4 linked regions of the Homo sapiens genome follow. The protein of the gene in region 1 purifies or fractionates together with the protein of each later gene. This does not show direct contact. Each region holds a gene or a part of one and is shown on either strand. Other genes may lie near its edges.

What was found. Proteins that work in one complex are often made in the same cells at the same time.
Region 2: the proteins of CFAP263 (region 1) and GALM purify together in Homo sapiens (affinity purification with mass spectrometry; one large-scale study listed by BioGRID and IntAct). This does not show direct contact.
Region 3: the proteins of CFAP263 (region 1) and SPTBN2 purify together in Homo sapiens (affinity purification with mass spectrometry; one large-scale study listed by BioGRID and IntAct). This does not show direct contact.
Region 4: the proteins of CFAP263 (region 1) and PPFIA3 purify together in Homo sapiens (affinity purification with mass spectrometry; one large-scale study listed by BioGRID and IntAct). This does not show direct contact.

The regions. Positions count from the first base shown.
Region 1 is NC_000016.10:58,248,783-58,252,735, reverse strand, and holds the start of CFAP263 (cilia- and flagella-associated protein 263), read right to left. Parts: upstream 2,801-3,953; 5' UTR 2,722-2,800; coding exon 2,621-2,721; intron 10-2,620; coding exon 1-9. UniProt on the Homo sapiens protein: Component of centriolar satellites contributing to primary cilium formation. In complex with CFAP263, acts as a regulator of ciliary beating that connects radial spoke 3 (RS3) to the inner dynein arm (IDA) and the nexin-dynein regulatory complex (N-DRC).
Region 2 is NC_000002.12:38,728,614-38,732,113, reverse strand, and holds part of GALM (galactose mutarotase), read right to left. Parts: intron 2,559-3,500; coding exon 2,417-2,558; intron 380-2,416; coding exon 205-379; intron 1-204. UniProt on the Homo sapiens protein: Mutarotase that catalyzes the interconversion of beta-D-galactose and alpha-D-galactose during galactose metabolism.
Region 3 is NC_000011.10:66,719,217-66,722,716, reverse strand, and holds part of SPTBN2 (spectrin beta chain, non-erythrocytic 2), read left to right. Parts: exon of another isoform or gene 1-1,276; 5' UTR 1,277-1,367; intron 1,368-1,454; 5' UTR 1,455-1,476; coding exon 1,477-1,633; intron 1,634-3,500. UniProt on the Homo sapiens protein: Probably plays an important role in neuronal membrane skeleton.
Region 4 is NC_000019.10:49,147,044-49,150,543, reverse strand, and holds part of PPFIA3 (liprin-alpha-3), read right to left. Parts: intron 2,462-3,500; coding exon 2,286-2,461; intron 1,879-2,285; coding exon 1,781-1,878; intron 1,552-1,780; coding exon 1,376-1,551; intron 1,288-1,375; coding exon 1,219-1,287; intron 998-1,218; coding exon 826-997; exon of another isoform or gene 465-825; coding exon 406-464; 3' UTR 393-405; exon of another isoform or gene 309-392; 3' UTR 1-308. UniProt on the Homo sapiens protein: May regulate the disassembly of focal adhesions. May localize receptor-like tyrosine phosphatases type 2A at specific sites on the plasma membrane, possibly regulating their interaction with the extracellular environment and their association with substrates.

The DNA of each region.
Region 1 (3,953 bases):
TTTACATAGCTGCAAGACAGGGTACCTGAGTAAGTTCTAGTAATAAGAGTTTAAACCTCAAATAACTAGTGTTTAATAACTAGTAGACCTGCAAAACCCGTTAGCCCCTTGGTGCCTTAGTTTCCTCACCTATAAAATGGGTATTAAGAATAGCACTTAACTTTTAGGGTTCCAATAAGGAAGACAAAGCCTCTGGCACAGTGCCTGACACATAGTAAGTGCTATATATTTGATATTTTTATTAATATGTTTAATGAGCCACAAAATTCAGAACACTAGTATTACATTGAAAATTCTCATAGGTTTCATCTTCAAGTATCATTGAACCCATGTGGGAGATTATTTCTGAATTACTATATATTATATATATACATATATATATTTTATTTGTTTAAGAGACAGGGTCTTACTCTGTTGCACTCACTGTAACCTGGAACTCCTGGGATCAAGCAATCCTCCTGCCTCAGCCTCCCAAGTAGCTAGGACTGCAGGTGCACAATGCCATGCCTGGCTAATTTATAATTTTTTTTGTAGAGGTGGTATCTTGCTATGTTGTCAAGGCTGGCCATGAACTCCTGGCCTAAAGTGATCCTCCCACCTTGGTTTCCCAAAGTGCTGAGATTATAGGCAATAATAGCCACTGTGCCCAACCTGAATTACTATATTCTTGAAGTTAAACACACCCACAATCTTCAGATGTTTCCTTTGGTTTGTTTTTCAGTTCTTTTATTTTCAGTACCCAATAGATGAAAAGTATCAACCAGAAGTTTATCATAAACTCTGGAAAACTTTGAACAGAGGAAGAGATAACATACCTAGTTTATCCTGTATATGCCAAGGTTATAACCTTTTTAACTTCTTAACTTCTCATACGTGTGTATGTGTGTGTGTGTTACACACACATATGTATGTATATGTATATGAGAGAGAGAACAGCTTTGATGTTTTCATGTGTTATTAATCTATTAGGTTGGTACAAAAGTAATTGCAGTTTTTGCTATTACTTTTAATAATTCCTGTTTGGCTGAATTTTAAGACTAGTGGGGCCAGGTGTGGTGGCTCACACCTGTAATCCCAGCACTTTGGGAAGCCGAGGCAGGTGGATCACCTGAGGTCAGGAGTTCGAGACCAGCCTGATCAACATTGTGAAACCCCATCTCTACTAAAAGTACAAGAATTAGCTGGGTGTGGTGGCAGGTGCCTGTAATCCCAGCTATTCAGGGGTCTGAGGCAGGAGAATCACTTGAACCTGGGAAGCAGAGGTTGCAGTGAGCCGAGATCATGCCATTGTACTTCAGCCTGGGCGACAGAGCGAGTGAGATTCCGTATCAAAAACAAAACAAAACAAAACAAACTAGTGGAAAAAGCTGAATGGAAAACACAATCTATCAAAGTAGCTTGCTTTTTCAGCATAGAGCATGCTCCAGGTGTATGTAGTCTGTGGAGTCACACCTGAGTTTGAATCCCAGCACTACCACTGACTGTGTGAACTTAGGGAAGTGACTTCACCTCTGCGTCTTTGTTTCCTTACCCACTTCCTAGGGTTGCAGTGTCATCATATAAGATCATATATGTAAATGCATGGTACATAGAAACACTCAAAAATGAGAGCTGTTAGTAATAATACCTCAGTTCTGACCTAAAGTATTTGTAGATGTATAGAAGTAACATCTATTCAGCTGCTAGAGCTAGGATATTCTGTGCAAGACCAGTAAGTTGTACAACTAATCTTAACTACATCATGGAATCTTTATATCCAATTTACTTGCTATAGTAGAATATATAAAGCAGACTGCAAAATAAAATAAAACAAAATAAACGCAGACTATCGGGCCATTCTTTACTGTCCATCTCCATGCTTATATCCAGGTTCAGGCACACATTGCCTCATACTAAAACCATCTCAATAGCTTGCTTTCTATTCTGCTGCCGTGTTAGTTTTATCATATAATTTTTTTTTTTTTTTTTTTTGAGACTTAGTCCCTCTCTGTTGCCCAGGCTGGGGTGCAGTGGCACAATCTCGGCTCACTGCAACCTCCGCCTCCCAAGTTCAAGTGATTCTCCTGCCTCAGCCTCCAGAGTAGATGGGATTACAGGCACGCGCCACCACGCCTGGCTAATTTTTGTATCTTTAGTAGATACGGGGTTTCACCATGTTGGCCAGGCTGGTCTCGAACTCCTGACCTCAAGCGATCCGTCCGCCTCGGCCTCCTAAAGTGCTGAGATTACAGGCGTGAGCCACCGCGCCCAGCCTTATCATAGAATCTTAGCATCAGAAAAGGGCTTAGAAGTCACCTGGTCCAAATTGCTGCTGTAGAATTGTGGATCGGCTAAGCACACCGTCTGGCATGAGAGAGACTCCTCCGGCTGAAACCCTCACTTCCCCAATTACCCTCTGGGCTTCTCACCACCGGCCCCATCCCCTCGCCCTACCACCCCGTTCTAGCTCCACCAACAGCTTGTTGGCTCAGTGGTGGTGGAGTAAGGAGTAAAGAGGAAAAGTCTCCCCAGTGCTCAGTGAGGGCTTGGATCTTCTCCATGCTGGTCCCCAAGTCCGAGGCCGCCCGGAGAGGAGGGCCTAGGAGGAAGAGGGGCGGCCCCCAGGCGCGGGCGGCGGTACCTGAGCTCCTCCACCAGCCCGCACAGCTGGATAACAGGCAGCTCCAGCTCCGACCCTTCATGGGAGTCGGAGAGGACGCTCTCGGACTCATCATCAGTCATCACTCTGCCGAAGCGGCCCCTGCCAATGCCGTGTGCCCAGGAGCTCCGGGTGCCGGCGGCCACGCGTCACTCCGGCTGCGACGCGGTGGCGCGTTGCCCGGGCGACCGGACGCGAGGAAAGGGGTGGGGCTTCCGGTGGCCCCTCCCCGCGCTGCCCCGCCTGTCTCCGTGCGGACCCAGCCAGGTTGCTGGCTTTGAGCGCACACCTAAGCGCGTTCAGTTTCACTTCTTTAACAATAACTCTTAAATTGATAGTAATAATAGCAGCTGCTGTTTCTCAGCCCTTACTGTGTCCTTGGCAGCGTGTTAAGCATAGTTTATGAAAACCTTCGCCACAACCTTGTAATGGTATCTATCAATCTCTCCATTCTCCCAATAAGGAAACTGGGGCCTAGAAAATTAACACGATTTATCATAGTGTCCTTCTTCCCCTGTCCCACTGGGAGGCCCCTGCTCTGTTCACCACCTGGTGCTTCCTACATGCTAACAGCAGCTCCTCTCAGATATTAACATCCTGCATTTCTGGAAGGAAAAAAACGTGGCTGATAAAAATGGGTATACATTCAAGAGACATCCCTAAATAGTTACTGAATATCTACTGTGTCCTTAGTATCCTAGGGGGAATGTCTGGAAAAGACCATTCTGATCTTCAAGGAGCTTCCAATTAAATGAGTGAAACAGCCTCTAAACAAGCCGCTGGAACCTGGGGTGATGACAGCAACATCATGCGTCACACTGTGCATCGTAGTCATCTCCTTAAATCCTCAAAACAATCTGGTACAGTTGGTATTATTGCCGTCATCTTACAGATCAGAAAACCAAGGAATGGAGTAGCTTAGGTTCCATTCCACTCAAGAATGGAATCAAGCTCCGGTGGAACCCAAAGTCCATGCTGTTAACTTCTACGCTGATGTGGGACATGGTAAGGATCAGGGAGGCAACACAGGAGCTCTCTCTCTGCTCCCCATGGGGATGAAAGAGGACAGAGGGCAGGACGGGGAGACTTCTCCTAGGGAGGGTGAACTCTGGATGTGCTTAGAAAGCAAGCTGTGATGAAGTGCTTGGGGAGCGGGTCAGCCCCCTTCCCCTGCAAGGGGCATGCATTAGCATTGACAGGCACTCCCTGGATCTGAGGGAGGGTTTTTGTTTTGCTGCTCAGGGTGCACAAGGTTGGGGCCAGAATAGAATCACTGGAGATGACAGCAGAGAGCTGGAGCCCTACCACCTTCTCT
Region 2 (3,500 bases), on another chromosome or scaffold:
AGGAGGCGGAGGTTGCAGTGAGCTGAGATCGTGCCACTGCACTACAGCCTAGGCGACAAGAGTGAGACTCTGTCTCAAAAAACAAACCAAACAAACAAAGCATGAACTTTTGAATCATACAAGCTGATTCGAGTGTAGTGAACTCTGTCGTACAGTGTGACCTTGGACACAACTCTACTCTGAAAAGCCAGCCTGTGGCATTACCTGATTGACTGCATCAGGCCAGTTCTGAGTCTCCAGGCAGAAACCGGAGTGCTTGGGATAGACAGCTCCATTCTTGCCCTTTAATGTGCCATCCAGGAAGTTGCCCGTGTAAAACTGGACCCCGGGCTGGGTGGTGTATACTTCTAGTACCCGCCCGCTTGCAGCATGATGCACCCTGGTAAGAAATACAAACAACATGAGTCCAGGGCAGAAAAGCAGGTGGGGAGGAGTAGAAGCTGGGAAGCGGCTTTGAGACAGGAATCAGACCCAGCCACAGAGCAGGGACAAGATATAAGGAGGAGATGAAGGTAGGAAGAGCATGATGGAAAATTCTTCCAGTCTCAAAGGCAAGGCATGAGCAGGTGGCTTTCAGGATCCTCAGTAGCTTCTTTGGGGCATCACAAAACAGACTCACTCCTGCCAGCTGGGGAGTAGGGAGGAAGGCAGCAGCCAGGTTGGAGAGAGGAAGGTCCTGGAGAGGCTGAGATTCTTTTTTTTTTTTTTTTTTTTTTTGAAATAGAGTCTTTCTCTATTGCCCAGGCTGGAGTGCAGTGGCGCGACCTCGGCTCACTGCAACCTCAGCCTCCCGGGCTCAAGCAATTCTCCCACTTCAGCTCCCCAGTAGCTGGGACTGCAGGTGCGCACTACCATGTCCAGCTAATTTTTGTTTGTTTGTTTGTTTTGAGATGGAGTCTGGCTCTGTCACCCAGGGAGGAGTGCAGTGGTGCGATCTTGGCTCACTGCAACCTCCGCCCCCTTGGTTAAAGCAATTCTCCTGCCTCAGCCTCTAGAGTAGCTGGGATTACAGGTACCTGCCACCACATCCGGCTAATTTTTTGTACTTTTAGTATTGTCGGGGTTTCATCATGTTGGCCCAACTGGTCTTGAACTACTGACCTCAGGTGATCTGACCACCTCAGCCTCCAAAAGTGCTGGGATTACAGGCATGAGAGCCACTGCACCTGGCCTGAGATTCTTTTTTTTTTTTTGAGATGGAGTTTTGCTCTGTTGCCTAGCCTGGAGTGCAGTGGCGTGATCTCGGCTCACTACAACTTCCACCCCCTGGGTTCAAGTGATTCTCCTGCCTCAGCCTCCTGAGTAGCTGAGATTATAGGTGCCCACCACCATGCCTGGCTAATTTTTATATTTTTAGTAGAGACGGCGTTTCACCATGTTGGCGAGGCTGGTCTCAAACTCCTGACCTCAAGTGATCTGCCCACCTCAGCCACCTAAAGTGCTGGGATTACAGGCATGAGCCACCACGCCCAGCCCGGAGAAGGTCTTTGATCTTCTTTCTGTCACTATTTGGTTTGAGTCATTTTTTCTGCTTTATTTAAAAACTGTTGACCGGGTGCAGTGGCTTACACCTGTAATCCCAGCACTTTGGGAGGCCGAGGTGGGTGGATTACAAGGTCAGGAGTTCAAGACCAGCCTGACCAACATTGTGAAACCCCATCTCTACTAAAAATACAAAAATTAGCTGGGCATAGTGGCACGTGCCTGTTATCCCAGCTACTCAGGAGGCTGAGGCAGGAGAATCACTTGAACCCGGGAGGCGGAGGTTGCAGTAAACCTAGATCGCACCACTGCATTCCAGTCTGGGCGACAGAGCAAGACTCCGTCACACACACGCACACACACAAAACTGTTAATTCTGCAAACATTTATTCATTATTTGCTAGTGCCAAGGATGATATTAGGTGTTGGGGTAGAGGTAGGGCTTCACAAAGATGAAATGGCATGAGGAACTGGGATTTGGTGAGAAGGCGAGAGCGTGCACACAAGTGTCTATCGGTCAAGGCTGGAGGCGGTGAGTGCTGCAGGAGATGCCTAGCCTCCAACTGGCCATGGAGTAGGCAGGCATAAGTCACAGATCGAGAAAGCACAAAGGCTCTGGAAGTTCAGTGACAGCCGAGGTGACTTCACTAGGAAGAGTTAAGGCTTCTAACAGAAAATGGGCCTTAAAGAACAGGCAGAGAGGGAGAGAGCGGGTGCCAAGCAGGGGGAATAGGGGTAATGGCAGGTGGGGGACTGGGATAAATTCTACAGAGCTCACCTGTGCCATGGGAGCTTTGAGAAAATATGGGATGTGGTATTGGGTCACTTGTAGCATAGTAAATGCTATTGATATGGCCAGAGGAAAAGCTCCAAAGGAAAATAGGACTTGGTGTCATTTCTTCCTTACAGACTCAGGAAGTGAAAAGTACCTGACCTTGCACAAAAATGCTTTTCTTTAGATCCCTTCAGACAGAAATTGTGGTCAAAACCATTGAGATGGAAGTCCTGCAGGTGTTTTCCAAGCTCCACTGGCTTTCTCAGGTCGAATGCAGTGCCTTGCACTGGGGCAACTTCTCCTGATGGGAAGAGACAGAAAACAAAGGTGATAAATGCCCAAGTCTCATCTTTATATAGAGCCTCCACAAAGGCTCACTGGTTCTACTCTCTCCGCCTTCATTTTAATTTGTTAAGGAGATGGGAGCCCAGATCCTGGGAAACATGCAGAGACCCCATCTCTACCAAAATAATAAAATAAATAAATAAATAAATGTAAAAAATTAGCCAGGCATAGTGATGTGTCCCTGTGGTCTCAGCTACTCAGGAGGCTGAGGCAGGAGGATTGCTTGAGCCCAGGAGGTCGAGGCTACAGTGAACCATGATTGCACCACTGCACTCCAGCATAGGTAACAGAATGAGACTGTCTTAAAAAACAAATATGGAGAGGGTGGGGAAGAGAAAAAAAAAACCCTCAAATAAATAGAGTATATGGGAGTATGGGCTCAGGTTATATGCAAATACTGCACCATTTTATAGAAGGAACTAGAGTATCTAATGATTTAAGTATCAGTAGGGGGTCCTGGAACCAATCCTCCATGGATTCCAAGGGACAATGGAAAATATATACTCATAAATATATAGTAACATATACATAAAAGCCAGAGTTGTTCTAGCTGAATCAAGTACAGGTTCTGAGCAGCGCAGGTGGAAAACCCCAGGATAAGATGATGGCAGAGGTCCACTTCCTCTTAAAATTATGGCCCACCCAGGAGTAGTAACAGCCAGGTGCTAGAACCTTGTACCAAGTACAGAGAATACCAGTTTCCTCTGTAGCAGGCCAAATCACTCCAGCCATTTTTTCTTGAAGAGGAAAAGAAAAGGGCTCTGTTTCAGAGGCTTAAACAATGTTACGGTTGAGTTTTTGTTTTGTTTTGTTTTGTTTTGTTTTTTGAGATGGAGTCTTGCTCTGTCACCCAGGCTGGAGCGCAGTGGCGCGATCTCAGCTCAGTGCAACCTCCGCC
Region 3 (3,500 bases), on another chromosome or scaffold:
TTACCATGTTGGCCAGGCTGGTCTCAAACTCCTGACCTCAGGTGAGCCACCCGCCTTGGCCTCCTAAAAGTGCTGGGATTACAGGTGTGAGCCAATGCCCCCAGCCAACTTAATGTCTTTTTTTTTTTTTTTTTTTTTTTTGAGACAGAGTCTCATTCTGCCGCCCAGGCTGGAGTGCAATGGCGAGATCTCGGCTCACTGCAAGCTCCGCCTCCTGGGTTCACGCCATTCTCCTGCCTCAGCCTCCCGAGTAGCTGGGACTACAGGCACCCACCACCACACCCAGCTAATTTTTTGTATTTTTTAGTAGAGACGGGGTTTCACCGTGTTAGCCAGGGATGGTCTCGATCTCCTGACCTTGTGATCCGCCCGCCTTGGCCTCCCAAAGTGCTGGGATTACAGGCGTGAGACACCGCGCCCAGCCAACTTAATATCTTTTGTGCAGCTTCCTCATCTATGAAATGGGGACAACAGTGGGCCCTCACCCCACAGGGAGTTATGGTGACGTGATGCATGTCAATGGCAGGGATATGTCACAGCCGACATTTATTGAGTACTTACTAACATTCTCTGTGGCAAACCAAAGGAAACAAAGCGGAGAGAAGCATACTGTGTCCTCCTTTGAACTCCTGGGCACTTGCTAAACAGTGTGTCAGTCTTCCTGGCGTATCATAACTTTTTCTTAACTCAAGAGCAGAATCTAGGTCTTTTTTTTTTTCTACTAGTCTCGCTCTAAGGTGCGCCCAGGTTCAAGCAATAATCCTGCTTCAGCCTCCTGAGTAGCTGGGATTACAGGCGCCTGCCACTACGCCCAGCTAATTTTTTGTATTTTTAGTAGAGATAGGGTTTCACCATGTTGGTCAGGCTGGTCTTGAACTTCTGACCTCAGGTGATCCACCCACCTCGGCCTCCCAAAGTGCTGTGATTACAGGCGTGAGCCACCGCGCCCAACAAATCTGGGTCTTTTTCTCTCAACTTGCCTACAGGGTATAGTAGGCCATCTTGGGTTGATCATGGGCTCAAAACAGTTTGTAGAAGGAAAGAATGCCACTTTCTAGTCATTATTGCCTGTGGGGCCCCATATGTGCTGCCTGCATTACCCTGGGCTGCACACTGCTGTCTGAAGCACTGAAGCCCATCACCCCTTTCTTCACCCCGCAAACCCGTCCCTCTCTGGCCCGAAGTCGTTGGAGCCTTTCCTGACCACCGCATTGCTCTGAGCTGCTGCTGCCTTCCTGCTTCACTTTCTGTGCTTCTGATGTATTCCCGTCCCCAGGCTTCCCAGGTGGCTTCCCCTCTTCCCCTGGGGGCTGATTTCCACTGAGCAGCCAACCGCAGCCTCTGGCCACAAGGAGAGCGGAGCACAGGTAGGGCAAGAAGACAGAAGGCCCCGGTGGTGAGTGGAGGGCTTGGTGGTCCCTGGACACCCCTCACTGGCCACATTCTCCTTGCAGGAGCAGGAAGCCGCCTACCACCATGAGCAGCACGCTGTCACCCACAGACTTTGACAGCTTGGAAATCCAGGGCCAGTACAGTGACATCAACAACCGCTGGGACCTTCCTGACTCGGACTGGGACAATGACAGCAGCTCGGCCCGCCTCTTTGAGAGGTCTCGCATTAAGGCTCTGGCAGGTGAGGTCAGAGGAGGGTCGAGGTGGGGGGATGCTGGAGGAGGCTTTGTCAGCTCGTCATGAAGAGCCCTTTAACTTTATGGGAAGACTGACTTTTCTTTCTAAGTGGGAGACCCAGAGCACTCTATCAATTCCCTGGTCCCCACATCCAGCCTCAAGAATAGGCTCCAGGCCATTCAGAACTTTCCCCAGCTCTTCCCCCCAAGCATAGAGACGCTTCACTGGCCCCTGGACTGGCTGAGCTGACTAAAACAGCTTCCCTCTCTGGCCTCAGCCCCCGGGTCATGTCCCTTCATCCTTCGGCACTCTCGCTCTTGCCACTCCTTTCTCCGCCTACCTCTCCCTTACCTGTCATGCCCTTGTTGTGTCTTCTTTGATTTCCACTGTCATTTCCCACACCTGTTCCCAGTCTATTATTCCCCTCTGCTCCCTCTCCACCTGTTCCTTCCACCTGCCACCTGTTACTCCCATTATCTCATCTGCCTGTTCCCTGAAGCAGGTTCCCTCCACCCGCTGCTGCTGGTTTCTGCAGCCGCCCATTCTCCCTGGTGTGCTCTCTGCCTGCCTTGGCTCCTACTCTTCCCTGCAGCCCAGGGCCTGGGCTCTCCGCTCTGAGCGGAAACTCGTCCAACGGCCTCCCTGTCTTCCGGGGGAGGAGTTGTCATGGCAACAAGAGTGCGGCTGCCACCTGACACCACCAGTGGCTGGCATGGGGCTGACTCACCCACACACCCCAAGGCCACCTACCCCGTCTGGCTTCCTCCTCCATCCCACTCTTGTCATTGCCATTGACCTGCTGGCTGCCCAGCCCAGCCCAACCCAACCCAGTCTGAGGGGTCCCAGCTACTCTCACCGAGAGGTGGTGCTCCGAGTGGGGGTGGGGGTTGGCCACTAGAAGAAGAGAGACTCCAAGGGGGAGGTTCCCAAACCTGGCCACATGTTTTACAGGATCACCCAGGGATGTTTTTTACAAATACAGGTTTCCAAGCCCCTCCCTAGACACAATAAGTTAGAATCTTGGTCCAGAACTCAGGATTTTTCAAAAGCTCCCCAAGTGATTCTTTTGAGCCAGCTCAGCACCAGTCTGAGGACCCCCTTGTGGCAGCCATAGCTTCCCAGGACCCCTTCTCATTTTCTCCTGGGCCTCTCTGTCCTTCTGGTTGGGTCTTCAGGCCGGCTGTGAAACACTCCTACCAGTGTGTCTATACATCAGAGAAGACAGAAGGTGTGGGTTATGGAGAATGTCATGTTTGGGGAAAATGTTCCTGGCACTCTGGTTTTGGATTCATGTAGCCTCTAGAACTGTCATGATGTCTATGTGTGTACAACATGTGCCACCCACCATGTTTGCACACATGACAAATGCCATCCAGGACTGTCACCATGCCTGTGTACATAGGACACATGCCTCCCAGGACTCTCACCATGCCTGTGTACATAGGACACATGCCACCCAGGACTGTCACCATGTCTGGCTGCACATAACTTGGGCCACCCAGCACTGTCACCATGTCTGTGCACACATCTGTGTGACCTCGTGCTCTCATTGGGTGTTTATCTCCACCACTGAACTGGGCTCTCCTGAAGAGGCAGCTCTGCATGGGATTTGCCTAGCACTGTGTCTCCAGCCAGTAGGTGTCAAATAAACACTGAATGAATGAAGATGAGGAAGGGCAAGTGTAGGCTGCACATGACAAACGCTGAAGCCCAGAGGAAGGGCGCCTGGTATATGTGCCCAGCAGCGGGGCGTCTGGGGGCAGGGATGGCCTGGTGGAGGATGGCCCTGGTGGGCCAGAGGGCAGGGAAGGGGCTGGCACTGGAGGTGGTGATAAGCAAGTGGAAAGGATGGTAACAGCCCTCGTTTCACA
Region 4 (3,500 bases), on another chromosome or scaffold:
CCCGCGGGTAAAGGACACCCGTCTCCCAACAGAAACTGATCAATAAATTACAAAGTAGAGAAAAGGAAAGCGGACGTTTGGGGCGGGATTTCTTCCTCCCCGCTTCTTCCCCCTCTCAGTCCAGTTCATGTGGTTTGGTCCAGGCCCCGGCCCTGTGCGAGGCGGGCGCGCGCACTCCCGCTGGTCTGTACAGATGGTCCAGTCCTCGGCGCGAGCTCCCCCGCCCGCTCTCCCCGGCGAGGCCACAGTCCGGGCAGGAGAGGGAACAGCCCAGCCTCGGGAAGATTCTTCCGTCCGAGTGAGGTCACCTGCATGACGCCGGGCAGCGCGTGGAGCAGTGAAGATCCACCGTGCCGCCCCGCACCCCCAAGGTCGCCCAGCACGGTCCTCACCTGGAGGCCTGCACTAGCAGGAATAGGTCCGGACCGAAACGCCGTCTGCCCGGGAACTCCCAGAAGTCTGGCCTGGAGGGAGAGCGAGCAGCGGTTCAGCCTGGAGCACCCTCCTCCCTGTTCCTCTCCAGGATTCCTCCCTTTGGACTTCCCTTCCCGATGTCACAACGATCGCCGGGCTCCACATGGGTTTCCCTCCCTTCCCCGCAGCCAAGGACTCAAACTCGCATTGGGCGAGTTCACTCCCGCCCTGGGAAGGGGGAGTGGGATTTATCCATTTCATCCTGACGGGGGAGTCCGGAACGTTGGAGCAGTCCATTCCTCAGGGGTGGGCGAGAAAGGACTAGGCCATTCCAGAACCCGGACTACTGAGGTGGTCCATGCCCCACCCTAGGGAAGCGAGGAAGGGCTGTCGCATTTGGGAGCCCCCCACCTTCTGGCTGCAGCTTGCGGAGAGGGAGCCCCGGAGAGCCCAGGGCTCCCGCTGCAGCCGAACGAAAGTTGGGGGGCAACATCTCAGCTGAGTCGGGAGTTACGCCTCGGAGGTCCTTCTCCCGGAACATCTTCCGCCAGGATGGGGAGCGGCTGAAAGACTTGGCGCTGTCCTAGGTATAGGAGCCGGACAGCCGGTGAGGGACTCCTGCCTTGTCTGACTCCGCCCCTTCCTTTGACTCCACCCCTCTCCGGGTCTCACCTCTCCTTTAACCCCGCCCCTCTCCTGGCCCCGCCTCCAACCGTGACCATTAATAGTCAGGCCCCGCCCCCTCAGCTCAGCCTCTCGAGGAGCCGCTGGGAGCAGAGCCCTCTGAGCTGTTGCCGCGCCCACCTCGTCCAGCCGCCTGTCTGTGCCTAAGGAGATAAGGTTGCTGAATTCCTTCTCCAGAAGCTGCCGGGCCTGGAAAGAGGAGGTGGAGGGGGCGGTTGGAGCGTGCAGTCTGCGAGGTGGGGACGCCCAGCATGCTCCGGGCCCAGCGGCAGCTCACCTGTGCATTCTGCGTGGGGATCTGCAGGAGCAAGGCCAGGTCGGAGTAGTCGAAGGTCTCGTCCAGGGCGAGCAGTGCCCCGTGTACCCCGCTCTCCGTGAGGTTCGTGGCAAATTCCTTCAGGCCCAGCCCGGACACCCAACCCATGACCCGCTCATTGGACCACACCATCACGTCTGGGGACGGAAGGGACCCTCAGCCGTGCCCCTCCCGTGGCCTGGAGAGTTCAGTTTAGCCCATACCTCCACCTCCATTTGGTCTCTTCGGGCCACGCCCCCCACGCTGGCTCCACCCCCACGGTTATGGTGCCAATTTGCTTCTCCGGTCTCCCCCTACCCCCTCTCCTCCCCATCCAGCTCCACGCCCTCCACCTGGCTCCCAAAGGGACCCTTAGGCTCTACTCACCTCGGATCTGGGTCTGACTTTCTTCCCGCCTCCGCTCCAGGTCCTTCCGGTCATAGTTGAGCCGTTTCAGGCACATAATCCCATAATGTAGACTCACCCTGAGCAGCAGGGGAAGTGGAGTCACGGATGAGCTTTCCAGTCCCCTAGACTGCTGCTCCTACGGGTCCCTCCCCACTGGCTGCGCTCTTCTTGGAAAGGGTGGGGAGCTGATAAGTTCTATTGACTGTTGACCCCCTCAGGAGGTGAGGCATTTTCAATAATAGGCACTTCCTACTGGCCAGCCTGGAAGGGGTCCAGGGTTAACTAGCCAAGCCATTTCAGGATCTGAACTTTTCCTGTGGACCATCTCATTGGTGAAAGGAGCACAGAGTCAGGATTTCCTGAGAACTCAGGCTAAAAGGGCCAAGATAAGCCTGGGAATCTCCCATGGCCAATCCTATTGGCCAAAGACTCTCTGGGGTGGGGCTTCCCTTTGGACTGTCCCCACTGGCCAGGCAGCCCCCACCTGTGAAAGCTGTCCACCATCTTGAGTTGGCCCCGGAGCTCCTTCTTGTTAAGGTGATCTAACATTCGAGCGTCCACCAGCGACTCCATGAAGTAGCTGCGGTATTGGGGCAGCCCCAGGCTGGGCAGCCAGTCGTTCCCCACCCACTCGTGGTTCATGTCGCCATATGCCAGGATCTGGGGCCATGGGCAGGTGAGGGAAGAGTCAGGCCCTCTGGCCCCTTCCCACTGTGCATGAGAGGGGTACAGTCCAACCTCCCAATCCAAGGTTTTTTCCCACCCCATGGTAGGACAATGACCAATCTCTGCTCAGGATAATGGACCAATCCAGAGTTGTCTCCTAGCCCTTCATGACAGCATATACTCTTGGCTACTCAAACAGTTGTCCTGAGACCTAGAGCGTCACCATCACCTGTGGACTTGCTGGAATTGCAGAATCTCAGACCTTACTCCAGACCTACTGAAGTCGGTATCGGCATTTTCACAAGACCCTCAGGTGATTCGAAATATACATTATATTTATTTTTAAATTTCTTTCTTTCTCTCTTTCTCTCTCTCTCTCTCTCTCTCTCTTTCTGAAAGAGTCTGCTATGTCACCCAGGCTGGAGCGCGGTGGCACGATCTCGTCTCACTGCAACCTCCCCATCCCAGGTTCAAGCAATTCTCTTGCCTCAGCCTTCGAGTAGCTGGGATTACAGGTACGAGCCACCACGCCCGGCTAATTTTTGTATTTTTTAGTAGAGACGGCGTTTCACCATGTTGGCCAGGCTGGTCTCAAACTCCTGACCTCAAGGGATCCGCCCACCTCAGCCTCCCAACGTGCTGGGATTACAGGCATGAGCCACCGCGCCTGGCTGTATTTGTTTATTTTTTAGAGACAGGGTCTTACTATGTTGCCCAGGTTGACCTCAGCTTCGTGGGCTCAAGCGGTCCTCCTGCCTCAGTCTTCCAAGTAGCTGAGACTACAGGTGTGTGCCACCCCACTACACATTAAATTTGGGGAAGCACTGCTTTAACTCTGTCTCACTGCAGTCCAACGTCACTAAACCCCCAAGTCAGGACAATGGACTCTTTCAAGGCAGCTCTCCCACTAAGAAAGGGCCATCACTCTTGCAATGTCCTGAAAATACTTGTCTAATGTTATATCTGGCCCAGGACAATATTCCAGATGAGTCCCAAGTCCCTCACTCCTTTCAGCATCAGCACAAAATCCACG